7 linked regions of the Homo sapiens genome follow. The protein of the gene in region 3 interacts with the protein of the main gene of each other region in a pairwise test. Each region holds a gene or a part of one and is shown on either strand. Other genes may lie near its edges.

The links.
Region 1: the proteins of FLNA (region 3) and PLEKHF2 interact in binary tests that used the Homo sapiens proteins (3 or more experiments, as listed by UniProt).
Region 2: the proteins of FLNA (region 3) and FAM117B interact in binary tests that used the Homo sapiens proteins (3 or more experiments, as listed by UniProt).
Region 4: the proteins of FLNA (region 3) and MTNAP1 interact in binary tests that used the Homo sapiens proteins (3 or more experiments, as listed by UniProt).
Region 5: the proteins of FLNA (region 3) and CAMKK1 interact in binary tests that used the Homo sapiens proteins (3 or more experiments, as listed by UniProt).
Region 6: the proteins of FLNA (region 3) and BOD1 interact in binary tests that used the Homo sapiens proteins (3 or more experiments, as listed by UniProt).
Region 7: the proteins of FLNA (region 3) and PHOSPHO2 interact in binary tests that used the Homo sapiens proteins (3 or more experiments, as listed by UniProt).

Annotation. Positions count from the first base shown.
Region 1 is NC_000008.11:95,150,479-95,154,479, reverse strand, and holds part of PLEKHF2 (pleckstrin homology domain-containing family F member 2), read right to left. Parts: intron 450-4,001; 5' UTR 436-449; coding exon 1-435. UniProt on the Homo sapiens protein: May play a role in early endosome fusion upstream of RAB5, hence regulating receptor trafficking and fluid-phase transport. Enhances cellular sensitivity to TNF-induced apoptosis.
Region 2 is NC_000002.12:202,721,187-202,725,487, forward strand, and holds part of FAM117B (protein FAM117B), read left to right. Parts: intron 1-3,730; coding exon 3,731-3,823; intron 3,824-4,301.
Region 3 is NC_000023.11:154,360,580-154,364,634, forward strand, and holds part of FLNA (filamin-A), read right to left. Parts: coding exon 3,947-4,055; intron 3,794-3,946; coding exon 3,680-3,793; intron 3,587-3,679; coding exon 3,443-3,586; intron 2,206-3,442; coding exon 2,082-2,205; intron 2,000-2,081; coding exon 1,839-1,999; intron 1,754-1,838; coding exon 1,663-1,753; intron 1,570-1,662; coding exon 1,400-1,569; intron 1,209-1,399; coding exon 1,091-1,208; intron 992-1,090; coding exon 729-991; intron 9-728; coding exon 1-8. UniProt on the Homo sapiens protein: Promotes orthogonal branching of actin filaments and links actin filaments to membrane glycoproteins. Anchors various transmembrane proteins to the actin cytoskeleton and serves as a scaffold for a wide range of cytoplasmic signaling proteins.
Region 4 is NC_000017.11:73,238,151-73,242,451, reverse strand, and holds part of MTNAP1 (mitochondrial nucleoid-associated protein 1), read right to left. Parts: exon of another isoform or gene 3,814-4,301; intron 352-3,813; exon of another isoform or gene 209-351; coding exon 101-208; exon of another isoform or gene 30-100; coding exon of another isoform or gene 20-29; intron 1-19. Other genes in the region: CPSF4L (putative cleavage and polyadenylation specificity factor subunit 4-like protein), read left to right, coding at 20-29. UniProt on the Homo sapiens protein: Critical regulator of mitochondrial DNA (mtDNA) abundance. Binds dsDNA throughout the mitochondrial genome without sequence specificity and controls mtDNA copy number by promoting its replication.
Region 5 is NC_000017.11:3,871,753-3,876,053, forward strand, and holds part of CAMKK1 (calcium/calmodulin-dependent protein kinase kinase 1), read right to left. Parts: intron 1,711-4,301; coding exon 1,657-1,710; intron 876-1,656; coding exon 802-875; intron 1-801. UniProt on the Homo sapiens protein: Calcium/calmodulin-dependent protein kinase that belongs to a proposed calcium-triggered signaling cascade involved in a number of cellular processes. Phosphorylates CAMK1, CAMK1D, CAMK1G and CAMK4. Involved in regulating cell apoptosis.
Region 6 is NC_000005.10:173,613,572-173,618,015, forward strand, and holds the start of BOD1 (biorientation of chromosomes in cell division protein 1), read right to left. Parts: upstream 3,080-4,444; 5' UTR 2,866-3,079; coding exon 2,629-2,865; intron 1-2,628. UniProt on the Homo sapiens protein: Required for proper chromosome biorientation through the detection or correction of syntelic attachments in mitotic spindles.
Region 7 is NC_000002.12:169,696,903-169,700,073, reverse strand, and holds part of PHOSPHO2 (pyridoxal phosphate phosphatase PHOSPHO2), read right to left. Parts: intron 2,714-3,171; 5' UTR 2,543-2,713; intron 2,210-2,542; exon of another isoform or gene 2,092-2,209; intron 1-2,091. UniProt on the Homo sapiens protein: Phosphatase that has high activity toward pyridoxal 5'-phosphate (PLP).

The sequences.
Region 1 (4,001 bases), on a different chromosome or scaffold from region 3:
ATGTTCATTACTGGGTGTCTTCCCACTTTTGGAGAGTAAATCAGTAACACATTTATTTATATGATTCATCCATTCTGATTTCTCCGTAGCAGTGGCAGCATAAACTGCAAAAGATTTAGTTGGTGTCTTGATTAGCCATCCATTCCTTAAGTCTCCCTCATCTTTGATGGAATCAATAGTGACATTTTCCAGGGGAATAATATGTTGTTTGTTATATTTTTTCTTCTGGATGACAATATTGCCATATACAAGAATATCATTAAACAAGAAAAACTGCCTTGCTTTGGGCTTTTTCCTGCACAACTTAGTCAATACTCCTTCTCCAATAAGAACTCGTCCAGGTATAGTTAAAGGTTGACCAGCTGCTCCAAAACAGTTTTCCACTATACTTATACGTCTAGTATTTGCTTCACTGTTTGCCAAGCGATCCACCATCTTTCACTAATAGCCTTTTAAAAAAAAGAAAAAGAAATTAGCACATATAAATTATAAATTCCTATAAGTTAATTATATATAAATTAAGCTAACAAATCATTGCTTTTACACAAAGGCAAAATGTTCTAAAATTCTTTCCCTCTAAGATAATCACTAAGCACATCAAAAGGGCTAACATTTCTCAATTTTTAAAATGATGAAAAACACTTATTTATCATCTCCACGTAGCACCATACTAGTTAAGCAGGTATTTGTAAAAGTATAAACTTCCTACAGACATAATTGAATGAAAGACGATTGGATAATTAACATAACTTATCTCTGCAAAATAATAAACCCCATTCAATGAAATGTAATCTCAATGGGATTCTGAACAATAGGGAACAAAATGTTACATAAACTAAGAAAAATGACTACAATTTTCCAAGTAAGCTATTACCACTGAGCTACAGCCTTAATTCTCTCACCTGGATTACTAGAACTGTTTCCCAACATGTGTCCTGGCCTTCAATCTTGCCCCCAAATCAATCTTTGGGCAGTGATCTCTAAAACCCTAATTTGACCCCATCATTGCTCAAAATGATCCCTTAACCTATTAAATACAGGGTGTTCACGGCCTTTCATTACTTGGTTCTTGTCACTCCAACCTCACCATAAGTCAGTCTTCACCTCAAATGTCATATTCTAAGAACACTCTACTACTTGTAGTCCATTTCACTGTTGTTCCTTTTACTACTTACTACTGCAGCTAACTCATATTCATCCTTCGAGACTTAGTTTAGGTAATCGTGTCTCCTCCAGGAAGCCTCCTTTAAACTCCCATGCTAGACTAAAACCCTTCCTGTGAGCTATCCATATTCCATGTATATTCTAGCTTCACTTTTACCAAAGGACTGAAATCTGTTCCTCCAGAGACCATGCAGAACCTAAAAAGCAGAGATCATCTGATAGTTTTGTTTGAAACTGATACGGTTTGACACAGAAAAGGTACTAAAAAATGTTAATAACATTTTAACAATGTGCAAAACACCCTATTAATCTAAACATTTAATCTCTAAGTCCAATATTGACTTCACTCAAGTCCCAGAGTTGTATCCTATTTCAAACCTACTAAACTAATACTACTATACTATAACCAAGTCATATTAAAGAACAACAAGCCTTGAGAAGAAGACCATTTAAAGTTTAAAGACTAACAGCATAGTATGTAAGTTCCAGTATTCAGCTCAAAAACTGACACTATAGCCCTTCTTGGCCTTCATTATAAAGGACACTAGAATTCTGGTTATTTCTGAATTCTGTCTCCCTGCAAATCTTGGGTCCTTATAAAGCCCTCTTGTCCTCCACAAAAGTAGGATGTAGCAGGCCTAAAAGTTGTTCCCAAGAATTAATAGGATAATGCATGGTTCCAAACTGGAAAGGTTTCTAATTAGGACTAATATGCCAGCCAATTAAAAGCCTACTATCCTATGCACAAGTACATCACAGAAAAGGAAATAAAAACGGCTAATAAACAGGAAAAGAGGTTTCAATCTCTATCATAATTAAAGAAATTATATTAAACATTAGTATATTTTTCACTTAGATTAATAAAAATTTTTAAATTTACTAAGATTCAGTACTCATAAAGGTATAGGGAAATAGGTACCCTTGTACACTACAGAGAATATGTGTATTCACCAATCTAATTAAATAAATTTCACTCACGTGCATAGAGATATATACAAGGATAATCAGCACAGCATTGTTTATAACAGGAAAACAATTGGAAAAGCTCCAAATAGCCATCAAGAGGAACTGATTGAAAAAGTTATGACACACCCTTAATCATATATCTTGAGAATAAGACAGATCTAAAACCAGTGACAAGGGAAATGCTCAAGATCTTTAGGTGGGGAAAAGAGATGAACTTCCTGATCTCATTTTTATTTCAAATAAATACCACATTTCATCACATCTAAGGTGCTATAGATTTTAAGACATATTTATGTGCAACTCATAAAGAGAAAAATGTTGCCAATTAAACCACAGCATACCGTTGATTATAAGACCAATTTCAAATACATATAGTAAAAAATGTTTATCTTTAGACTCAATGGAATACATATTTCAAAAGCATAATCATAGACATCTGTATCTGTAAGCACACACACAACATAAAGTTAAAAAATATATACTATACTATCAACAATGGTAATTTATCTCTGGAAAGTATAATTATGGATCATTTTTTCATACTTTACATTATATTCAAGCATTCCACAAGTATTTGTCAGGCACTTAGGATCTAGGTGCAGGAAAAGTAAAAATAAACACCACAGGCGATCATACTTGAGTATGTGACAACAGATAAAAATTTTAAAAAATAATAAATTAAACAATACAGGCAAGGTCCCTGCTCTTCAGGGTTTACATTCTAGTTGGAGAGAAGGAAAGAGAAAACAAAATTGAAATCTAGTACTAATCAATGCTATGATTTTTTTTTTAAAGTGATTTTTAAAAGAAACTGAGAGCTATTCAGACTACATGGTCAGGAAAGGCCTTTCTACAATGTTGTCATTTCAGCTGTACTAGATGGACAGACATAAGAAGGGGTAAGGATAGGGGAGAATATTCCAGACAAAAGGAGTAACTGCAAAGGCCCTAAAACAGGAAAAGACATTGGCACTTTAAAAAAAAAACTGAAAGGATCTATTTCTCTCCACCTGAATCAACTACTGAGTCCACCCATTTGAACATATCGTTATTAACTCATATACAACACAAACAGATTTCCTATTATTGCTACTATGAGAATTAATACTATCATAAATTTGTACTGTGCTTTTCATATTATTTTCTGATTTGAACTGTTTGAAATGCCTATGAAGTTACTAGAGAAGTTTTTATTGTCCCCCAAAGAAGCATCTAATAATATTAGCTGAACTGTGAGCTGATGAAGAAATTAAGGCACAAAGATATTTAATAATGTAAAAGCAAAACTTAACCTGGAATGAACTCTACTCATAGGGAGTCCAACCAATGTGCTGAGCACTTTGCACTTATTACTGTATTTCCTCCTCACAGCAACCTTATGATACATGCACTATTAGCTCCATTTTATGGATGAGTAAACAGCCAAAGAGGGGTTAAATAACTTGCCCAAGGCTGTCACAGCAGAACAAGCCTCAAATCTGATTTCTCTGTGATGTTACAGTATGTTATGGTACACTAATTGTTCCTAAGAACTCCACTGAATCTACAAGAACTCTAAGGAAGCTATTAACTAACCTCTGGACCTTCATTGCAAACCCTAAAAATACTGAAGATAAGGGAATACTACCTTGAACAAATCACCTGAAAGGATGGATATGTCATGATTTACCCAGCTGGTGTCTTGATAATCTTTCATTGTCCAAATGTTTCAATATATTAAGTCTAAATCTTTGTTCATAAATCTTTCTCCCTGTTTAATAATGATGCAACTTAAGCAAGGTTTGGGGCATTATTAATTAGTATTTGGCTGCAGCAAAGCAAATAGCTTTCAAAGTTTGACAATGACCAACATAAACACATTTTATATTGCA
Region 2 (4,301 bases), on a different chromosome or scaffold from region 3:
AATATTGAACTAACATTTGAAATGCAAGGATAAAAATTTAAACAATTTTTGAATTTGGAATTGTATTTATAAAGCATCTCTTCATCATGATTTTAGCCTGAAGTTTTCATATAAATAGTAATATAAAATGTATGAAAGAGGGGTTATCATTTACATTTGATTAGAATTTGCAAAAAACTATTTTCATAAAACTTATTCTGTTTCTATCCTCTGTTTTACATGAAATTATTATGGTCATTTTTTTCATCAAAAAATATTTGCATTCTTTCATATATCTTTATGACCATAGAGATAACAAAATAAGTTACGACTACTTGGCCTAATGGAATGAAAATAATAATAAACATTTACTGAGTGAATGTTTTGTTCTTGGCACCGTGCTTAAAAATTAAACCCTTTACATATACTAACTCCTTTAATTACCTTATAATTTTAGTATGTAGATGACATTATTCCTTTTTTTTTGAGACAGGGTCTCGCTCTGACATCCAGGCTGGAGTGCAGTGGAGCAAGCACAGCTCAGTGCAGCCTCAACCTCCCAGGCTCAAGCAATCCTCCCACCTCAGCCTTTCAAGTAGCTAGGACTACAGTCGTGAGTCATGAGGCCCAGCTAATTTTTTACATTTTTTTAGAGATGAGGTCTCCCTGTGTTCCCCAGGCTGGTCTTGAATTCCTGGGCTCAAGTGATCCTGTAGCCTTGGCCTCTCAAAGCACTGGGATTAGCCATGCATAAGCATGAGCCGCTGTGCCTGGCCTGACATTATTCTTATAAATGAGGAATTTAAAAATTCATATAAGAGAAGCATCTTGTAAAGATACAATTTTTTTTTTTTTTTTTTTTGGAGATGGAGCCTCTCACTGTCGCCCGGGCTAGAGTGCAGTGGCGAGATCTCAGCTCACTGCAACCTCCACCTCCCAAGTTCAAGCGATTCTCCTGCCTCAGCCTCCCAAGCAGCTGGGATTACACGTGCCTGCCACCACGCCCGGCTAATTTTTTGTACTTTTTGTAGAGACGGGGTTTCACTATGTTGGCCAGGCTGGTCTCAAACTTCTGACTTCGTGATCCACCCGCCTCGGCCTCCTGGGATTACAGGCATGAGCCACCACGCCTGGCCCAAAAAATGTTATTTAACTGATCTGAAACTTAAACATGTTTGTTTAACACCAACATATGTGATTCTGAACCACGCATACTATGCTGCTTATTCACAATAGCAACGACATGGAATCAACCTAAATGCCCATCAACAGTAGCCTGGATAAGGAAAATGTGGTGCATATACACCATGGACTACTGTGCAGCCATAAAAATAAACAAGATCATGTCCTTTGCAGGAACATGGATGGAGCTAGAGGCCATTATCCTTAGCAAACTAACACAGGAACAGAAAACCAAATACTGCATGTTCTCACTTATAAATGGGAGCTAAATAATGAGAACACATGGACACATAGAGGGGAAGAGCAGATTCTGGGGCCTTCTAGAGGGTGGAGGGTGGGAGGAGGGAGAGGATCAGGGAAAATAGCTAATGAGTACTAGGCTTAGTACCTGGGTGACGAAATAATCTGTACAACAAACCCCCATGACACGAGTTTACCTGTTTACCTATGTAACCAGTACATGTACCCTTGAACTTAAAAATTAAAAAAAAAAAATTCATTTGTTAAGGTTTTAAATTTTATAGTATTAAGTTTATTATTTTGATTTTGGTTTTTGATTTTGATACTTTATGCTATATGGTCCTATTTACATGTTGATCTTTGTGACAGGTATTTTAACAATGGACTTAAAGAGCCTGTGGATCCTAATATGAGAAATTATAAGTACAGTAGGGGTCACCTCTGGGATGTGTGACATCAGTTGGTAACCTCAAAGTGAAACTGGAGTTTAGGGTGAAATAGGGCATAGAGTGGTGGGAAGTTGACCAAATTGTAGCCCTTCCTTTTGATTCAGTGTATTTAAGGATCCTTGTCAGAATGGAGTCCTTTTGGCTATAAGGAGAAGATCCAGACCTGGGACATGACTAATTAGAATCACAGTGTCTTCATTTTTGAAAACTTTTCCTTCCCCATTTGAAACTAGACCATTTTATAATTAGTAATTGGTACGTTAATAGTGCAAAAGATATTCAAACTGCACAGTATTTTTTGGTATTTTTTATTATTTCATGTACAAAATTCAGAAGGTACAGAAGGGTATACACTAAGGGTCTTTTTCCCCAGAGACAGCCACTGGTACCAATTTTCTTTGTTACCATCTATTTTCTTCCAGATATAATTTACACACACATGCATTCTTTTTAGCAGTCCCATATAAAGGCAGTTGCTATACACACGGTACTGAGCCTTGAGGTTTTTCACTTAACAGTATATCATGGAGATTATTTCATGTCTGTATATTGTGAATTTCCTTATTCATTTTTATAGCTGCACAGTACTCTGTTATAAAGGTATACCATAATTTATTTAGCCAAACCTAAATAAATCTAACTTACTTACATTGTTTCAGTCTTACTTGTAAGAACAGTGCTACAGGGAATAATAGGCAAGTCATTTTGTACATAAAGATGTGCATTTGGTATCTGTGCAGGATAAATTGTTAAATAAGGGGTTGCTGTGTCAGTTTGCGCATTTATAACTTTGACAGCAGGTGCTGAATATCCCCCCATAAAGGCTGTATGCTCCCACTAACAATATAGGAGAGTTTATATTAGCAAATTGCTCAATCTTGTTGAAGCTTTAACTTTCATTTCCCTTCTTATCAGTGAGGTTGAGCATAGTTTCATGTGCTAGGAACTCATTTGTATTTTCTTTCCCAATACACTTTTTAAATTCTGGGTTTGGTATAACTACTTAAGGTTTAACTTTTTTTTTTTTTTTTTTTTTTTTGAGACGGAGCCTCCCTCTGTCATCCAGGCTGGAGTACGGTGGCACGATCTCGGCTCACTGCAATCTCCACCTCCCGGGTTCAAGCGATTCTCCTGCCTCAGCCTCCTGAGTAGCTGGGATTACAAGCACACGCTAATTTTTGTATTTTTAGTAGAGACAAGGTTTCACCATGCTGGTCAGGCTGTTCTCGAACTCCTGACCTCGTGGCCTGTCCGCCTTGGCCTCCCAAAGTGCTGGGATTACAGGCGTGAGCCACCGCGCCCAGCCAGGTTTAACATTTTTGAAGCTGTTCTCTGAAGATACTTATGGCAAGACTAGACATAATATAGAAGTTAATATTACAAGCTCTGGAGTCTCAGGTTTATTTCTTGGCTTTGCCGCTTGTAACACCTTAGGCAACTTACATGTGTTAAGTCAGATAAAGCATATGAAAGCACAGTGCCTAGCACATAAGAGCACAAGAATGTTAGCTATTATTAGTGTGCCTGGTGCGTGCTAATAATAACTGACATTATTAGCTATTATATGTTAGTTAACTATGGTAACTCTAGTTATTATATATAGTTAACTTTGTTCCATAAATGCTTTATTTGTAGTATAATTATAATTATGTAAAAATACTAATTTTTTATTAGCAATAAAAATGAAGTATGCCAAAATATTAATTGTAATTAATACCAGTTAAGTAACTGGTGCCAGGAGAATTTTGAGTAATTTGTGTTAATTATTTTTAATGTCTAATTTTTTTGTAATGGAAATATGTTTTATAATAGAAAAATATGGTAGACATTGTTGTGAAATGATTTTTGTTAAATACACCTCCCCTCTTTTTTCATTACAGACAGAGAGTGCATGGGCTGAAGAATACTCTGAAAAGAAGAAAGGGTCTCACAAGCGCTCAGCATCTTGGGGCAGTACAGATCAACTTAAGGAGGTCAGAAAAATGGTTCTAAGATAGTGGGTGTGGAAATATGATCCTTTTGTTGGCTATTTCCTTGATATTATGGGCAGCAAGGATTTGTCGTTTTCCATTGATTTCTTTTTTCTTTTTGGCTTCTGAAATAACAAAAACAATTATTGTGTTGATTTAATAAAGATTTCAATAGGGATATTTATATATCACTTACCTGATTATGTATGTTTGTCTTTTTTTAGGAGAATTCATACCTGTCTATTAACATCAGATTTAAAAATTGTAACAATACAACAAATTCACATTTATTCTTTTTTTTTTTTTTTTGGGGTGTGCATGTGTGTGTGTGAGACGGAGTCTCGCTCTGTTGCCCAGGCTGGAGTGCAGTGGTGCGATCTTGGCTCACTGCAGGCTCTGCCTCCCAGGCTCAAGCAATTCTCGTGCCTCAGCCTCCCAAGTACCTGGGACTGCAGGTGTATGCCATCATGGCCAGCTAATT
Region 3 (4,055 bases):
GCCTTCACCTGAGGGAAGAAGGGGTCAGGAGCCAAGGCCACACTATGCCCCGATCCCAGACCTCCTGCTTGACTTTCCACCTGCCTCCCCTTGCCCTGGCTTCCTGCCCTCACCAAACAGGGACACGGGCGGGCCCAGGCTGCCTGCCAGATGGGCCATCCATCAGTCATAAGGACAAAAAGGAGGGCAGGGCGCGGTCACTCACGCCTGTAATCTCAGCCCTTTGGGAGGCCAAGGTGGGTGGATCACCTGAGGTCAGGAGTTTGAGAACAGCCTGGCCAACATGGTGAAATCTCGTCTCTACTAAAATTACCAAAATTAGCTGGGCATGGTGGCGGGCACCTGTAATCCCAGCTACTTGGGAGGCTGAGGCAGGAGTATTGCTTGAAGCCAGGAGGCGGAGGGTGCCGTGAGCCAATATCGCGCCACTGCACTCCAGCCTGGGCGACAGAGTGAGACTCTTTCTCAAAAAAAAAAAAAAAAAAAAAAAAAAAAAAAAAGAAAGAAAAAAAAAAAAAAGAAATTCTTCAACCCTGATGACTTTTTGTGGGTTTCTATTTCCCTCCTCCCCTTTACTCTCACTTAAACAGGGTCAAGGTTGACAGTCTGTCTCAGGAAAAAAAAAAAAAAAAAAGGATTTAGGGCAGGTCTGGAGAAGATGGGGTACCTTTGGGGCCCTCAGAGAGCACAGTGGGTTCTACCCTTAGGGCCTCCCATACCCCAATTACCTTGCTAGGCTTGGTGGGGGCCACAGCTTCCAGAGGAAAGGGGCTGCCAGGCACGGGCACGCCGTCATAGGTCACCTCCACCTCATAGGGCCCTTCCTCACGGGGCAGGAAGCGCACCACACTGTTGTCAGCCCCCAGGCCTGGCTCCACCTTGCAGGGCACCGCTGCACCCGAGGGGCCCACAATCTTGGATGCCACTTTGCCTTGACCACCAGCACCCTTTGATTTGACTGTGAACTCCTGGTCTTTGCCAACGTCCACCTCTGTGGAAACGATGAAAGGAAGGAGAGAGACATGACACCCAGCTCAGCCAATCCCTGGATGTGACAAAGGCCTTTGCGACAAGGGCCCCAACTACTTACTCTCTCCCAGGCCAGACACCTTGATCTTGCTGAGGTCCAGGCTTGGAGATACTGCCACTGAGAAAGGGCTCTTAGGGATGGGATCCCCTCCATAAGTGACATTGACGCCTACTGGACCCTGGGAAGGGTGCAGAAGGGAAGGGGGTATTTAGAGACACCAGAATTGCTCCCCAACCCCCTCCTGGACCTCCATGCCTGTCCTCTCCCAGGTAAGGAATGAGAGTGGGCAGAAAGTCCCTCGGAGCTGTCCCCTAGGCTGCTGCATGAGGAGGCTGGGGACTCGGTGACTGTAGTGGAGGGTGTGGCTACCTGCTGGACAGGCGTGTACTTGACTGTGTAGGTGTTGTCATGGTGGTCGATGATGTCCACATCTCGCACTGCATCCCCCTTGGTGAGTCCTGAGAACTGGACGTCCAGCTTGCCTTTGCCAGCAGCTTTGGCATTTACTGTGAAGTGGGTGGGCTTGCCAAGCTCGACACCTGAGGAACACACAGGGACCATGTAGGGGCACCCTGCCCCAAGCCCTCCTACCCTTGATGCCCCGCAACCTGCCATGGGGTACCTGTCCTCACCAGTGCGACTGAGGCCAGGGCCCTCGGCCTTCACCTTACTGGCGTCATGAGAGGGCTCCACCTTGACTCGGATGGGGCTGGTGGGCGTGGCCTGCAGGCAGTGGGAGGAGAAGGCCTTAGAGGAGGGCAGACGTCATCCGCAATGACATCTTAGCGGCCAGGAGCGCAGCACCCACCTGGTCAGCAAAGAGGACCATAATGGTGTAGCTGCCAGCCCCCCGGGGCGTGTACTTGACCGTGAAGGTGTCATTGTCATTGCGGATGATGTCGAAGTCGATGTCAGCTTCGGCGGGGCCTACCACTCCAGGGGCACACTTGATGCCGATGCTGACGTCCCCTGCGGCGGGGAGAGGAGCGGAGGCTGAGACCTCGCAGGGACACCCCAGCCACCTGCCCTCCCACCCACAGCCAGGCCTTACCCTGGCCAGCCTCGGCGCAGTCCACAGTGAAGTAGGTGGGCTCGTGGGCCTTGAGCCCTGTCTTGGCTACTCCGGGGCCGTATACTTTGACCTTGTTGGGGTGGCTGCCAGCTCCCACATTCACCTGCAGGGCACAGGGGCAAGGGCAAGGGCATGAGCAGCCTGGAGGAGACTCAGAAGCTCCCTCAGCTACACTGGCAGGCACACAAAATGGTCCAGCTGCCTTGGGAAGAGTCTGGCAGTTCCTCAGTTGACCACAGAGGGACTGTGTGATGCTCCGGTTCACTCCGAGGCAACTACCCAAGAGAAATGAAAGCAAATGTCCACGCAAACACCTGGACTCACTGTTAACAGCACTGTTCATGATCACCAAAGGCAAGCTCATCCTCAATATCTGTTAGCAAGTGAACGGAAAAATGGAATGTGGTCTGGCCACACAATGGAGTATTATGCGGCCATAAAAATAAATGAAGCGGCCGGACGTGGTGGCTCATGCCTGTAATCCCAGCACTTTGGAAGGCCAAGGTGGGCGGACCACCTGGGGTCAGGCGGTTGAGACCAGTCTGACCAACATGGAGAAACCCCGTCTCTACTAAAAATACAAAATTAGCTGGGAATGGTGGCGTATGCCTGCAATCCCAGCTACTCAGGAGGCTGAGGCAGGAGAGAATTGCTTGAATCTGGCAGGCAGAGGTTGCAGTGAGCTGAGATCACGTCATTGCACTCCAGCCTGGCAATAAGAGCAAAACTCCGGCTCAAAAAAAAAAAACCAGGATGGGCGCGGTGGCTCATGCCTGTCATCCCAGCACTTTGGGAGGCCGAGGTGGGCAGATCACAAGGTCAGGAGATCGACACCATCCTGGCTAACACAGTGAAACCTTGTCTCTACTAAAAATACAAAAAATTAGCCGGGGGGGTGGCGGGCGCCTGTAGTCCCAGCTACCCGGGAGGCTGAGGCAAGACAATGGTGTGAACCTGGGAGAAAGAGCCTGCAGTGAGCCGAGATCGCGCCATTGCACTCCAGCCTGGGCGACAGTGTGAGACTCCATCTCAAATAAATAAATAAATAAACAAAATAATTATAAAGGAACAAAGTGCCAAGACATGCCAAACATGAACGAAAACACGGAAAACTTCGTGGTGAGCGAAAGAAGCCAGACACAAAAGGCCACATGGCACACAGTTCCATCTATAGAACATGTCCAGGATAGGCAAAGCCACAGCAGAAAGCAGGTTAGTGGTCACCAGGAGCTGTGGGACAGGGGAGTCAGGATGGTGTGCCACAACCACTTGAAATGGACGAATCGTGTGCTACGTGAATGCTATCGAGATGGACTAAAGGCCGGTGGAGGTTGGCTCACCCTGAAGGGGCTGTTGGGGATGCTGACGCCTCCCCAGGACACCATGGCTGTGTGCTTCACCGGCTTCCTGGGCACGTAGGAGCAGCTGTAAGTGCCATTGCCGTTGTCCTTGACCAACGCCTCCACAGGGCAGCCTTCATTGTCCTGTCAGGCAGATAGGAGCAGGTGGCCTGCTGGTCAGTGCCCAGGCCTGGGTGCCCACACCTGCCCTGCCCCCAACACCCGTGGGTGCTCTACCTGGACTTGGACCCGAAGTGGGGCCTTGCCACCGTGCTTGGCATCCACTGTGAACTCTGCTGGCTTGTTGACGGCCACACCTGTCTTCTCCAATCCAGGCCCACGTGCCTTCACCTAGCGGGAGACCACCCAGCTGTCAGGGGGCCAGGTCCAGGCTGCCAGAGCTACAACCCAGGCAGGGTGGCCAGGGACACAGAGTGCCATCCCCACCAGACCCCAAGCAGGAGCAGCAGGGCGAGACTTAGGCCATCACAGCCTGCTCTTTACCCTGTCTGGGTGGAAGTCCTGGGGCGCGTCACGGATGTCAGCCATGAAGGGGCTGAGGCGGATGTCTTCGCTGTTGCACAGCACGTGAACGGCATACTCGCCAGCCTCC
Region 4 (4,301 bases), on a different chromosome or scaffold from region 3:
TTTTTCCTCTCCTCTTTAGCCTTGCTTAACAGCCCGAAGAGAAACTTTTCCAAATGCCCAGAACCTGCAACAGAAGACAACAGTCAAACTCCAGCCTCACCTTTTTGTACAGCTCCCAAGAGCCTCATTAGAGAGAAGTTGGAGGTTGTAAGTCCGGCAGGGGGTTCCAAACTCCTTATATGAGTTGAGCTTCGTTCCAACAAAGAAACTATGGTTCCAAACAGAAGTCACTGTCATTGTTTACCGAAACGTACCCCCTTCCCTAACATCCAGTGCCGAAGGATCCACGGCTAAGCCTCAGGAAGAGCATATTCTAAACAGGTGCATTAAAGATTTCTGCATTGGACTGCAGCTAAGTGTTGAAAGTCAAATCAATTACAGGTTGAAAAAATGTTTTTCAAAAGGCCAAGGGACCCCTGAAAATCAGGGCGTCTACTTGTTTTTTGGTCTGCTGAGTACCCTGGCCAGGTGATTGATGCGCATGTGCTTCATGAAGTGAGTCTCTTACATCATCTTTTTGTTTTTGACACAGTCTCACTCTCTCGCCCAGGCTGGAGTGCAGTGGCATGATCTTGGCTCACTGCAACCTCTACCTCCTGGGTTCGAGTGATTCTCCTGCCTCAGCCTCCCGAGTAGCTGGGATTACAGGCACACGCCATCACGCCAGGCTAATTTTTGTTATTTAGTAGAGACGGGGTTTCGCCACTTTGGCCAGGCTGGTCTTGAACTCCTGACCTCATGTGTTCTGCCCGCCCCAGCCTCCCAAACTGCTGGGATTATAGGCATGAACCACTGCGCCTGGCCTCTTTTACATATTCTATCATCTGCTAAACATGTCAGCTAAAAGCGTGACTTTCTCCTTTTATGATTGTGACTTGCCCACAGTCAACATGCCTGTTCTATCACCCTATCGCTATTATTGGCCAGCAAACATTTCCTATTTATGTTCAGTGCATGAATAACTTAAGCAGAACCAGAAAAGAGGGCTTATGCAGGCCGGGCGCGGTGGCTCACGCCTGTAATCCCAGCACTTTGGGAGGCTGAGGTGGGTGGATCACGACGTCAGGAGATTGAGACCATCCTGGCTAACACTGTAAAACCCCGTCTCTACTAAAAAACAGAAAAAATTAGCCGGGCGTGGTGGCGGGCGCTTGTAGTCCCAGCTACACGGGAGACTGAGGCAGGAGAATGGCGTGAACCCAGGAGGCGGAGCTTGCAGTGAGCAGAGATCGCTACACTGCACTCCAGCCTGGGCAACAGAGCAAGACTCTGCCTCAAAAACAAAAAAAAGAGGGCTTATGCTCCTTAATCACATTTCTCCTGTACATGGTTTTCTCCATGTTTTATGACAGGTAATCTCTACTACTGATAGTTCTCTAGTCTTGGTTTGGTTCATCAAGATAAAGAAGAAATTAAACACCGACAACAGGTTTAGCAAGTGTGGTAAAAGTTGCTGTGGATGTAAAAATATCCAAATGATCATTAAAGAACAATGAAAAGAATCATGCTGGCTTCCAAGAAATTGCACAGAAGATAATTCTCTTGCAAGGTGAAGGTTAGTCTCTTAAAAAAAAAACCCATTCATCTTGGAAAAAATTTGAGGAAAACGGTGTAAAGAGACAACTTCCTGAAAATTGCAACCATGTTGTCAGCAGTGTCAGGATCACGTGGCTCCCTGACCTTGCCCTGCTTTCTCCAGTCAGGTGAGCCTACTGTCCTGACCTGCAGTTAATTCAGTAACTGTTAGCTCACTGGCCCTGCCTTTTAAGTACCAAAGGAATGAGTTGGCTTCCTGAGAAGGGCAAATGACCTATCAAAGGTCTTGCCTGAGTGAGAAAAGGTATAGCCCATTCTCTTGTGCAAAGATTCCAATAAAACTCTAATTTGCAGTCATTGGAGACAGTCATTGCCTGGTGAAATTACAAAGCTTTTTAAGGAGCCAATGGCACCATCTTTTAATCCCTATAGATTGATATGGCCTTGAAGTCCTTGGCCAATGGAGGGATCAGGGCTTGACCTGATCCTAGGGTCTCTCTCCTCTAGTATCTTGTGTTCATTTGGTGGTAACATCAAAGTCTGAACACTGATCCTGGATCCAACTTCAATAGTTTTTCAGTTTATAATAGAAGTAGAGGCCCTATGATGATTACACCTTATTTACTGTCTTGATGTAGAAGTCCCAAACTAAGTACAACATTTATTAGTTACAGACTATGAGCAATAAAAGGGATTAAAATAGTTTCTCACCACTATTTGGAAGGAACTTGTTACTGAAGAAAAAATTCTATTTTCCCTCCTATATCCTGTCTCATAACCTTGGTAATTTAATGTTTTAAGTTACTGTATCTTATTATTGTATTCTTAGGAGCTAACAGTGAAATGTATCAATAACATATCAAACAAGGTATTGACTTCTATCTGTGGTCTTTAAACTCTACTTGAGGCTTACTGTTTGGGAGAGTTAGTAGTTAATACCTCCAGGTTCACCTGACTCTTCTATCTGTGGTCTTTAAACTCAACTTGAGGTTCACTGTTTGGAATAGTTAGTAGAGTCAGACGAACCTGGGTTTGAATCCTGATTCTGTCACTTACTGCATGAACATAGGGAAGTCACTTAATGTCTGAAGCTCAGGCCAGGCCTGGTGGCTCACACCTGTAATCCCAGCACTTTGGGAGGCCAAGGCGGGAGGATCACCTGAGGTCAGGAGTTCGAGACCAGCCTGGCCAACATGGCAAAACCCCATCTCTACTTAAAAAAAAAAAAAATTAGCTGGGCGTGGTGGCAGGCACCTGTAATCCCAGCTACTCTGGAGCCTGAAGCAGGAGAATCGCTTGAACCTGGGAGGTGGAGGTTGCAGTGAGCCGTGATTGTGCCATTGCACTCCAGCCTGGGAGACAGAGCAAGACTCTGTCTCAAGAAAAAAAAAAAAAGATGTCTGAAGCTCAGATTCCTCAAGAGGAATAAGAGGGTGGGACAGTGGTGTCACTCAGAGCTGTTATGAGGATTAAATGACATAATGTATCTAGCATAACGATAGTCATAGTCATCACAGATAAACGTCAGGTCCCTCACTTTTTCCTCTAAAATGAAAAGTGTGTATCAAGGACACTCCTAAGCACTATAAAATGTAGTACAGAAAATACACAAGTCCTTCAATTTGGTAGAGAGATTTATCATGGGGGGAGTGTGTGCATCTGCAACTGAAAAACACAGAAGGCTGGACACGGTGGTTCACACCTGTAATCCCAGCACTTTGGGAGGTTGAGGCGGGCAGATCACCTGAGGTCACGAGTTCAAGACCAGCCTGACCAACACGGAGAAACCCCATCTCTACTAAAAATACAAAATTAGCCGGGCGTGGTGGCGCATACCTGTATCCCAGCTACTTGGGAGGCTGAGGCAGGAGAATCGCTTGAACCCAGGAGGCAGAGGTGAGCCAAGATCACACCACTGCACTCCAACCTGGGCAATGAGCAAAACTCTGTCTCAAAAAACAAACAAACAAAAAAACAAAACACACACACACACAGAAAAGTATGGCACTATAACAAACATGGTTTTAGTTATGGTGTATTTTCTACAACATGGTTTAGTGGAAAAGATTAAACTAGGCCTCAGGAAACTAGGTTCTCCTTGCAGCTCTACTATTTATTGGCAACACAAACTTGGACAAATCACTTATGCTCTCTGTGCCTGTTTCATCATCCACAAAATAGGATAAATTCACTCTGCCCACCTCTCTGTCCACCTTGTGCCCAAAATAAAAAAAATACAGATGGAGGCACTCTGAAAACCACAAAGCAACACAAATGTTAATATAATTAAATGTGTTTATTACGGAGAAGGGGCTTGACTTTGTGACTACAACTTTGTGCAAAAAGGTCTAGACGTTAGGCCTGTTTATAGAAGGTAGTTAAAGAAAATGTAGCTTTGGGCTAGCAATGTTCTGCTTTTAGTACACATCCATTTTGAGACCAGGCAAATAGAGGTTTAGTGAATATGAGATCATTTGCAAAATCTACCAGAGAAGAAAATGATTTCCCTTTAGGAAGAGATAATACCAGTTTTTCTCTTGCAAACCTATTCTGAGTTGTTACAGGTCTCCTGTCAAAATAAGCATGAAAGCACCAATGGCCACTACACACGACAGGTATGCTACTTTACAAACGACAGGTATGCTACTTTACAATCACCCTGCCCCTAGAAAAGCTTAAGAAACTTTATGTATTTTAACTAGAGAGGTGGTCTCATAACTAAAGATGAGATTCAGCAGAGAAAAGCAAAGATATTTCAAATGACT
Region 5 (4,301 bases), on a different chromosome or scaffold from region 3:
CTCGTGCTTCAGCCTCCCGAGTAGCTGGGACTACAGATGTGCGCCACCACGCCTGGCTAATTTTTGTATTTTTAGTAGAGATGGGGTTTCACCATGTTGGCCAGGCTGGTCTCTAACTCCTAACCTCAGGTGATCTGCCCACCTCAGCCTCCCAAAGTGCTGGGATTACAGGCGTGAGCCACCGCACCCGGCCTCCATTTCACTCCTGAAATCCACTGCTGAAAAGAGGAGCCTGGGAGCTCAGGCTGTGGCTGCCACGGTGGCCGTCATGAGGCGAACCATGCATGAGCAAGAGGCCTCCCCGACGTCCCTGCTACGCTCAGAGACCTCGGTCACAATGGGAAGAGTGGGGAGGAAGAGTGGCTTGAGTCCCAGCCCCCTGACCGCTCTCCTCCAGAGCATCCTCTTTTCCATCTGTGAAATGGGGAGCACGCACTGGCATCTTGAAGTTCCCTGACCCTGAGTGGGGGAAGGAGAAGTTCCCCTTGAGTCCAGGGGCTGGGTGGGGCTGGCGCCACTGACCCCAGGCAGGCCTGCGGTGAAGGAGTGGTGTGAATGATGCCTGTGGTCATCCCTGGCCAACCCTGGATCTCAGGGTTCCCATCCACACAGTGACGTTGCGGAGACCCTTGGCTCCAGAGTCCCTCCCGTCCATCTATTCAGGGGTCCCTCCCAGGGAACAGCACCGCCACCTTCATATCTGCAGGCTGGGGTGGGGTCCTCAGAGGGCAAAAGCTCTGCTAAAACTCAGACACCAGGAGCGGGTGGTAGCCCCCTTGTTCCCCTGGGTGGACAACTCACTCCTCAGGAAACACCACGGGCTCATTCTTGATCTTCCTGTGGAGGGCCAGGATGAAATCGTCGATGAATGGGCACTGTGGGGTGGAGAGGCAGACAAAGGATGTGGGTCCAGGGCCTCGACCTGTGCCAGGGGATCAACCCCCCTCCCTTGGTGGGGGCAGGGGTAGGGGGCAGGTCTGGGCTCCCATTACATGAGAAGGACCTCAACTCACACTGTAAATGTTCAACAAATGTTGACTGAATGAATGAGTTGCTGAGGGAACAATGAGGCTGGGTGCATCCACCGCCGTTACTGCCACCCGCGGCCAGGCCAGGCCAGGCTGGGTGCACCCACCACCATTACCGCCACCTGTGGCCAGGCCTCCACTCCCAGGGCCTGGGGCTTGGGAACATGTTCACTGAAATTCCCCCCTGCCCCTTAGTGTGGTCACCAGAGCAGGCACACCTGCGGGCAGGGATCACCGATACGTCAGCGTTGGGTGTCCCCAGGGTCCAGCCTCAGCCAGGGTAGGGGTGAAGGACAATTTGTCGAATAAATGAGCAAGGGAGTGAACACATGGCTCAATAAGTGAATGGCGTCAAGGGACAGAGGGACGGGGAGCACTCTGGCTGGGGCGGTGGCAACACCATCGTCGGCACCTCCCCTTAGGTGTCTGCTGTCCTGCGACTCCTTCGCGAGAATCGCTCCGCAGGGGACCAGAGAAAGATAGAAAAAGCCTCTTCTCTCTCAGCCTTCTCTGAGCCAGGTGGGCTCTTTCAAAAGCCACTTAAGGACAAAAAGGAAGAGCCTGCATCCGTCGCCCGTGCCCGCCTCACTGGACCCGCCCCAGCTCTGCTGGCATCCCTGGCACTCACCTTCCCATAGACAAAGCAGTACAACGTGACGCCAGTGGCCCATACATCCAAGGCCTGGAAAGAAACATGCTCACATCAGTCCCCAACAGGCACAGCCACCTCTGCCCACCCAGCTCCAGCGGGCTGCAGGAGAGGCCTGCAGGGAACCTCTTTCCTCTGTCATGCACTCACTCGACAAACACTCCGCGGTACTTGCCCGATGCTGGGCCCCGTGCTGAGTGCTGAGGACACAGGGGCGGCCAGAACAAGGCCTCCACCCTCCAGGGGTTCTGGATTTCCTTGGGAAAGACTCTAACCAGGTACGTTTCCAACTCAACAGGTACAAAACCTCCTTCATCCAGAGGGTCACACGGGCCGCTCCCGTGCCACAGACGCACCCCAGGAATGATGGTATATATGGAACTTCTGCTCACTAAACCAGCTCGGGCTTCAAGGAGTCATCCCTTCTCCTCATAATCCACCTTCTTCCTGATATTGCAAACAGCCCCTGCCCACACAGAGGCCCTGTCCTCTCACGCCCTCATCCACCGCCACTGCAACAACTCCTCTGGGCTCCCAAACACCCCTGGGCCTCCCCGCGCCCTGGACTCCAGCGTGTGCTCTCTCTACCTTCTGCTCCGGAACGCCACCTCTTCTGGTATCCACTTTCTCGCTTATATGAGTGATTCTCGATCTCTACCTACATATTCCTGCCCCAGATGCATCATCTGAATCCAACCAGGGAACACCAGACAAATGCAAACTGACAACATTCTACAAAATAACAGGCTGGTTGTCTTCCAAAATGTCAAGATCAGGAAAGACAACGGCAGGCCAAGGCCCTCTTCCAGATGAAAGGATACCACAGACAAGAAGGTGAATGCAGCAAGTGGTCCTCGATTGGATTCCGGGACCAGAAAAAGAAGAAGTTATGAAGTACAGTATCAGGACAACTGATAACATTTAAATAAGGTCTGTGGATTATGTATGTCTTTTTTTTTTCAGACAGAGTCTCACTCTGTCGCCCAGGCTAGAGTGCAATAGCACGATCTTAGCTCACTGCAACCTCTGCCTCCTGGGTTCGAACGATTCTTCTGCCTCAGCCTCCCAAGTAGCTGGAATTACAGGTGCCTGCCACCATGCCCGGCTAATTTTTGTATTTTTTAGTAGAGACGGGGTTTCACCACGTTGGCCAGGCTGGTCTCAAACTCCTGACCTCAGGTGATCCACCTGCCTCGGCCTCCCAAGTAGCTGGAATTACAGGTGCCCGCCACCATGCCCGGCTAATTTTTGTATTTTTTAGTAGAGACGGGGTTTCACCACGTTGGCCAGGCTGGTCTCAAACTCCTGACCTCAGGTGATCCACCTACCTTGGCCTCCCAAAGGGCTGGAATTACAGGCATGAGCCACCATGCCTGACCGATATATAAGTCTTATCAATGATTAATTTCTGGCTGGGCGTGGTGGCTCACACCTGTAATCCCAGCACTTTGGGAGGCCGAGGCGGGCGGATCACGAGGTCAGGAGATCCAGACCATCCTGGCTAACACGGTGAAACCCCGTCTCTACTAAAAAATACAAAAAATTAGCCGGGCGTGGTGGTGGGCGCCTGTAGTCCCAGCTACTCGGGAGGTTGAGGCAGGAGAATGGCGTGAACCCAGGAGGTGGAGCTTGCAGTGAGCTGAGATCGCGCCACTGCACTCCAGCCTGGGCGACAGAGCGAGACTCCGGCTCAAAAAAAAAGAAAGATGATGAAAAAGCCAGTGGGACAAAATGTCAATAATTGGTGAATCTGGGTAAAAAGATATAGGGGATTTCTTTGTACTATTCTTCCAACTTTTCTGTAAATTTAGAATTATATCAAAATAAAACATTTCAAAAAATCTTTATCAACATCCCCAACGTCTTTCTTTCTTTCTTCGAGACAAGGTGTCGCTCAGTCACTCAGGCTAGACACCATCACAGCTCACTACAGCCCCCAACTCCTGGACTCAAGCGATCCTCCCACCTCGGCCTCCCAAGTAGCTGGGACTACAGGTGTGCACTACCACACCTGTCTAATGTTTTTATTTTTTTTTTTGTAGAAATGGGGTCTTGCTATGTTGCCCAGGCTCATCTCAAATTCCTAGCCTTAAGAGATCCACCTTGGCCTCCCAAAGCACTGGGATTACAGGCATGAGCCACTGTGCCCGGCCTCCTGACCTCTTTCCTGGATACTCACACGTGTCCAAATGCCTCTCACCCACAGCCTCCCTGGCAGTGGGGTGGCTGGCACTCCATAGGTGAAACAGCCATGTGCCCAGGGAACTGCGCCAGACCGTGTAACCTCTTGTTCAGACAACTTTGCCTACGCTCCTGTCACTTAGGAGAAAGCCCAAACTTCCAGGCCCTTTATACCCTCTGCCCCCCACCCTGAGCCCTTCTGTTCTCTGGTTTATTCTCTAGGCTCCAGGTCCTGCTCAGATCCTCCCCATTCTTCAAGGGCCAGTTCAAATCCTGCCATGTCCCAAGATCTGCGGGGACCCCCAACTTCCCCCGAAACCATCCAGAGGGCAGGAAACAGGGTTCTCTTTGTTTCTGCCTCTTCCACAGTCCAGTCCAGAACCCAGCACAGAGCAACCAACAGTAAATATCTGCAAGGGAGATTTGGGACCACTTTGCTGGAA
Region 6 (4,444 bases), on a different chromosome or scaffold from region 3:
TGAAGCCTTCCTAGCTCAGCTGAACTTTGGTAGACCTGCCGCCCCATGAACATGTGAACAAGTGCTGGTTATAAGCTGCTGAGATTCAGTTTGCTATGCAGCATTACTGCGGCAAAGTTTGCTAACAGTCAGGGAAATGAAGTTGACAAAGGAACCAGCAGGCCTCAATTCCATGACTGGCCTCTTCCAAAAGGTTGAGAGAGCAAACTCAAAGACTCCACTAAACCTGGAAAAGAGAAAGGCAAGGAAATGGGGGCAGAGGAGTAAAATTCACAGATACCATGTGCTATCTGCCTAGTAACGCCTTCTTTCTAGTAACTGTCTTCCTCTCTTCACAAGGGTAGGGCAGAGGGTGCCACAGGAGTGGGTGCCTGAGCCACGCTAAGACAATGCAGACATTCCCTGGGATTTCCCAGATTGGAGCTGACAGCCTCTCTCTAGAGGAAGAAGCTGTAAAATGTAATCAAGAGATACTAGTAACCAAATGGATGACTCCACTCTGAACCAACAGTAAAACAGATATCAACAGAGATGAAAGACAGAACGAATGGGGAATATCTGGTTCCAAACGCACGCCTACCACCCTCTGGGAGAGTTTGTTCGTTCAATCCTTCCCTGGATTCCGTAAGACAATAGATTCTCCCCTTTGCATAAAGCAGTTAGGATTATTTTTGTCCCTTGTAAGCATAAATCCTGATGCCATACCGTCTACTCAAAATAACGCACCTGGTTTGAGATGATACGAACTGTTTACCGAAAAAGGACAAAGGACAGTGAACATCACCACCAAAACACGTAACAAACCCAGGCGATACAGAATCATCTCAGTTCAAGAAGTCAAAGGAACTCATGAGCCCACTCATAACGTTTTACTGTACTACCAACCCCTCCACCTGTTCACTTATCAGTTCAAAGTAAATTACAGTGCAAAGTAAATTACAGACATCTGTTCAATTTCCCCTAAATACTTCAGCAGTCTGGGGTGGGGCCCAAAATGTGCATTTCTAACAAGTTCTCAGGTGATGCTGATGTTAATCCAAGCACCACGCTTTGAGAACCACTGGGCTGAAGCAACAAAGGTCTCAGATAAGATATGCCTGAAAAAACACTATCTTCAAGAACTAAAACAACCTGGAATTCTCAGAAGGAACAGCTAAGGAGCTGTACATGGGAAGGTTCCAACCACTCTCCCTCACCAGCCGCTCAAGAGGGTAGTCCCCTCCCCCCTCAGGGGATACGTTCCAAGATCCCCAGTGGGTGCCTGAAACCTCAGGTAGTACTGAACCCTATATACACTACGCATGAATGTCTTTGAGGGCCATTATGAAGTAAAATAGGGGTTACCTGAACACAAGTACTTCCATACCGCAACAATTGGGTAAATGAAACCGCAGAAAGCAAAACCTTGGATGGGGCGGGCTACTGTAGTCGCTTTTGTTTTAAAATCACACACAAAACCTAACGGAATATAAGAAATATGAATGGAGAACTTGTCCTAGGAAAGGTGAAAGCTCTGTCAATACAGATCTGGGATGTATATGTATTAAATTACTTTGTTTCAAGGACAGACTTCTAGTTGGGCTTTTCATCTTGGAGAAGGAACAGTGTATACCACTTTCTCTCTCTACATCCGTATTTACCACCTGGTTTATTTACATGTCAGTTTTCTAACCTAGACTATAAGTTTTGAGGATGGGGTAGTGACTTATTCCTGTAATCGCACAGCTTGGCAACTAGAGGCCAATAAACGTTCAACGAATAAACAGACTACGTTTTTCCCTATCTTAAGGTCTAATTCTAAGCTCACAATCTTGCTGTGAGGTAAGCAAAATGTTTCCATGACAGGCTCTGGTAGGAGAAATCACTACCCTGCAGGAGTCCAGTGACAGGGTCTCCTAACCTACAACCACAGTCGTGGCTAGACAAGTTTTGAAAAGGAAGAAAATGAACATTCCAGCAACTACTGTATGTCTGATACTTAACACCCATTATTTCATTGAATCCAAACCACCCTGACGAGTAGGTAAAGTGAAATAGCGTTTTACTGGTGGGACTGACCAATGGCATTAGGATCTCAACTAGGCACCAAATCTCCTTTTATCAATGATGAAGTGCAAAATAAGGGTGCTGTTTCTACAATTTATCTTAATTCAACGCCGTACTAGTCTGCAAAACAATGAGCTAGAGAAAAGGAATAAACAGCTATAAAATGGTGATGACTGTGTGTTCAAATCATTGTGTTTAATGCCAGCTTCTCAGTGGTGAGTACGGAACAGGTGGAAATTCTAAAGCACGCTTGCTTATCTACTTGGTTTCGAAGTTTGTTATTAAGGGCCTCAGAGGAGTTCCATCTTGGGAATGATACGGTCTAGGCTCTAAAACCCACATTGAAACCCCAAGTTCGGAGAAGGGACTGGGTAAAATCACAACTAGTAGTAAATGTATCAGGCAGGAACCCACGTGTGCATCGCTCAGAAAGCTCTCCGTACTGCCCCAAGCGGTGTAAGACCTCACCGCTGAGATTTCTAAGCTATCTTTTGTTTTGCTCTCGGCTTTCGAAAATCAAAGCTGCCACCCGGCGGCCTCACGTGCAGCCCCGCTCCCCAACGCCCAGGCGGCCGCAGCTACCTTGGTGTCCACGTCGGCCAGGCAGTCCCGGCGGAAGCTGTCAAAAAGGCCCCGGCTCTTGAGCTGCTCCACGATGAGAGCGATGAGCTGCGGGTCGCCGGGAGGCAGCGAGGCCGGGTTGATGGGGCCACCGCCCCCGCTGGCCCCAGTAGCGCCAGTCGCTGCCCCGGCAGAGGCCTGGCTAGTTCCGCCGCCGCCCACCGCGCCAGTTCCCCCGCCGCCGCCGCCGTCCGCCATGGCTGCGCCCCGGGCCCACAAGGGAGAACGACTATAGCTTCTTCTCCAGGACAGAAGGCCTAGAACGTGTAGAGGTGGTGAAGGGGGCGGTGAAGGAGGAGGGCCCCAAGGCGGCAGCGGCGGAGGTGGCGATGGCGGCAGGGGCGGTGGTGGGGGCGGCGGCGGCGAAGGCCCCCTCTGATACAGCAGAGGTTGTGGTGGACGCGGCAGAAACGGCCTGCTCGATTCCAGGCGCACCCCAGATGGCGTCAACGTTGACCTTTGCATTGTGGGGCGGGAAGTTTTCTGTGGCCATCTCCGGCGTTCTTTATAGGCAGCGGCCTAGCCGAGAGAAACTACAACTCCCGGCAGGGTTCGTGCTTGCTCGTCGCGATTTCGCGGGGTAATATGGGAACTGTAGGCGCAGGCCTCGTGATCGCTGCAACCCGCCAGGCCTTCCCCGCCAGGCCTTCCCCGCCCACTCTCTGCTCACTTCCCATTCAATCAACACGTCCCAGCAGTGCCCGATTATAACAGTCATCTGTGGAGCTGATTAAAAGTATAGATTACCAGAATTATTTCTTAAAGATTTTTATCCAGTATTTACGGGTCGAGACCTAGCAATCTGTGCTTCAGCATGCACTCCCACGTCCTTCTTGAACAACATGTTCCGGGAAATTCCGGAAACAGTGGAACAGTCAAACTTCTATTGTTCAGAAATTTGTGAGTTTCCCTCCTTTTGGTTTTAATAGCAATGCATACTCATTTTAGAAAATTGGAAAATAACGGAAAAGTGTGAAGAAGAAAATAAAAGTTTTCCTTAAGTCTGTCTTATATGTGTGTGGATTTCCTCCCAAATATTAAATATTGTCAATCATAAGCCAATATTGAATAATTGAAAAGTGTCAGGCGTGATGCTATGCACTTTCCACGCACTTCTTCACGATAATTTAAAAAAGCAGATACATACTACTATTATTGCTATTTACAGACGTAGAAATGGAGGCAGAAGAAAGTTTGTTAACCTAATCACATACCTAGAGGTAGAAAAGTAGGATTTGAACCCAGGTTTTGAGGATCTAAATCTTGCATTTTAGCCTGAGGTATCCTGAGAGCTAGTTGGTATCCCACAATAGGTAAGGCTTTATATCCTGATTTTTTTAAGTAGCCACAATTCACCATTGGAATCCTATAGCTGCCACCATTATCCTCTCTTCCCTTCATCTTTTGCCTATTGTTAGCTCAGCTCCCCCTCCCAACCTCAGCAATTATGTCTGCTATTGTTGTTTCCTCATCTTACACAAGCAGCAGAGGGGATGTAAATAGCAAATTCTGCAATATCCTTGGCTCCTGCGAAGATGCAGAATTGGCAAAGATCCAGGATGTTCTCCACACCAATATTTAGTACTCAAGACAGTTTAATTTTTTTTTCTTTTTTTTTTTTGAGACAGAGTCTCACTCTATCGCCCAGGCTGGAGTGCAGTGGTGCAATCTTGGCTCACTGCAGCCTCCACCTCCTGGGTTCAAGCAATTCTCCTGCCTCAGCCTCCCGAGTAGCTGGGATTACAGGCGCATGCCACCATACCTGGCTAATTTTAGT
Region 7 (3,171 bases), on a different chromosome or scaffold from region 3:
TATAAAGTTGAAAAGTTCCACCATCCCTGAAGTGAAAGGCATCGATGTCACTGCTCTTTTCATTTTATCTTCTCTTACACCTTTAGCTCCCAAATAGTTAAAGACTCTGCCCATAAAATCTGTCCAAAATCCTTTTTGATAAGAATCATGTAGTTCCTTGATAAGGAACTTAAACAAATTTACAAGAAAAAACAAACAGCCCCATTAAGAAGTGGGCAAAGACACAAACAGACAATTCTGGAAAGAAGACAATACATGTGCCCAAGAAATATATGAAAAAAAAGCTCAACATCACTGATCATTAGAGAAATGCAAACTAAAGCCACAACGAGATACCATCTTATACTAGTCAGAATGGCTATTATTAAAAAGCCAAAAAATAACAGATGCTGGCAAGGTTGTGGAGAAAAAGGAACACTTTTACACTGTTGGTAGGAGTGTAAATTAAATTAGTTCAACCATCGTGGAAGACAGTGTGGTGATTCCTCAAAGACGTAGAGGCAGAAATACCACTTGACCCAGTAATCCCATTACTGGGTATATACCCAAAGGAATGTAAATCATTCTATTATAAAGATACATGCAAGCGTATGTTCACTGCAGCACTGTTCACAATAGCAAAGACATGGGATCAACCTAAATGCCCATCAATGACAGACTGGATAAAGAAAATGAGGTACTTATACACCATGGAATATTATGCAGCTATAAAAAGGAATGAGATGATGTCCTTTACAGGGACATGGATGGATCTGGAAGCCATTATCCTCAGCAAACTAACACAGGAACAACAACAAGAAAAACCAAACACCATGTGTTCTCACTTATAAGTGGGAGCTGAATCATGAGAACACGTGGAAGGGAATAACATACCCTGGGACCTGTCAGAGGGTGGGGGTGGGAGGAGGCAGAGCATCAGGAAAACAGCTAGTGGATGCTGGGCTCAATACCTAGGTGATGTGATGATCTGTGCAGCAAACCATCAGGGCACACACTTACCTATGTAACAAATCTACACATCCTGCACATGTACCCCTGAACTTAAAAGGTGGAAATCAAAAAAATTAAAAAAGTATTTAGCTTAAAATCAATTTCTAAATATCAATATTATAAGTAAATGATTGCTGACACTCTATATGATATTCTAAACAAATTACCTGAGAACTGGAGGCCAATTTAATTCTTCCAAACTAGAAGTAACTTGGTTAAGAGTTTTCACATGTTTATTTATAGCTGCTCTAGATAGTTTAGCTCTGGGGTGCCAAATAATTTGAATACACCTGAGTAATCATACTGTTTGTGGTGTGACAATTACTTATGTCTCTGTTTTCATTAGAATATAATGAAGGTGATTAATTATAAATCTCAAGAGAAAAGGAAAGAATAAGCTGGTCAACTGATGGTAAGAATAAACATTATTTATAAAAAATAACTATATAGAATATCCAGAAAAGGATATAATTAATGTGTGTAAACAGATAATAATAATAATTTTGAGAGTCATTATATGTCAGGCACTGACCTAAAAACTTTGCAATATCATACCATTTAATTGTCACAACCCTATTAAGTAGGAATCATTATTATCCTCATCTTAAAGATATATAAGCTGGATCTTGAAGTGGTTAGGTGTTAGTAAAGTGCCAGAGCTGGAATCTTAGGTTGATTTGATTCCAGACTTCATGCTTTTAAGTACCAAATTCTAGTGTTAAAAAATAGAATATTTAATGACTACTCATTAGTTTAAAAATATAACACTAAGTAGGTAATTTTGGCAGAAAGATATTTAATTACATAAAAACATTCATTACTTTCAAAGTACACACTAACCATAACACCACATCTGTGATACTCTTTATAACCATTTTGAGGTTTTTACAAGAAATCCTAAAAAGGCAAAGAACCACAGCAATAAGAAAAAGATCAATTAAAAATGAAAAACATGGCATTTAACCACACATATTCTCCAGTTTATAACAGTAGACACCCAGTAGTGAAGACAGAATAGAGCTCTTGACTCACATAAGACTAAGTATTCTGTGTCTCTTAATTTAGAATATCTAGAGAATAATTAACCTATAGGGGTATCACCTGTTGTGTGAATGTGGCTGGTACATAGTTTTTGTTATTCTGGATCCTTGTATCACTAAATGCCTAATCCAGATGCTTCTGACTGGTTCCCTGAAATTTAAATGCAGAATTCACTTTCCTACAGAAACAATGTAATAAATAATAAGGCATAATTGACAATCACAGTAGTACTGTAACTAGGCACATTTTAAATTAAATATGCTTTTTGAGAATTCTGAATTTATAATTAAAACAAATTTCAAATGTAACTCACTGTTGTTTGAAAACTGCCTCAAACCTAAACTTAATTAGCCACAAATTACTGAAATTCCTGAATTATTAGCCTCAAAATAGCATGAGACTGAGGTAACATAGTTCCCCTGCTGATCTGAAAGTGCACTTTTAAAATTTTCCCATCTTTTTCTGTTAGTATTTTCTCACCACTCAACATAAACCTTTAAAAAATACTTACCCAACTTAGTATTTCCAAGACAATCTTACTTCAGCATTGGGATTAGGATAAACAATCATGACAATCTTCAGTTTTAAACATCAGCCAGTTGTTTTCAAATATTACTCCTATTCTATATACAGGGAACAGAGTCTTCTGGTTTGGAGCAAAATAATGGAAACTTCTTAACTCCTAAAATTAATAAAAGTATTTTAAAAGCTTTAACATTTGTATTTTCAGGCCGGGCGCAGTGGCTCACGCCTGTAATCCCAGCACTTTGGAAGGCCGAGGCGGGGGATCACGAGGTCAGGAAATGGAGACCATCCTGGCTAACACAGTGAAACCCCATCTCTACTAAAAATACAAAAAATTAGCTGGGCGTGGTGGCGGGCACCTGTAGTCCTAGCTACTTGGGAGACTGAGGCAGGAGAATGGTATGAACCTGGGAGGCGGAGCTTGCAGTGAGCCGAGATCGCGCCACTGCACTCTAGCCTGGGCAACAGAGCGAGACTCCGTGTCAAAAAAAAAAAAATTTTTTTTTTTGTATTTTCTAATTATGTTGTTTTTCTAATGTCAGAAAAGCATCTTTTGGCAATAGGAGAACAAAGTTTTGCTTTCCACTTGGTATCGACTTGGTGTCGAAAATAAGA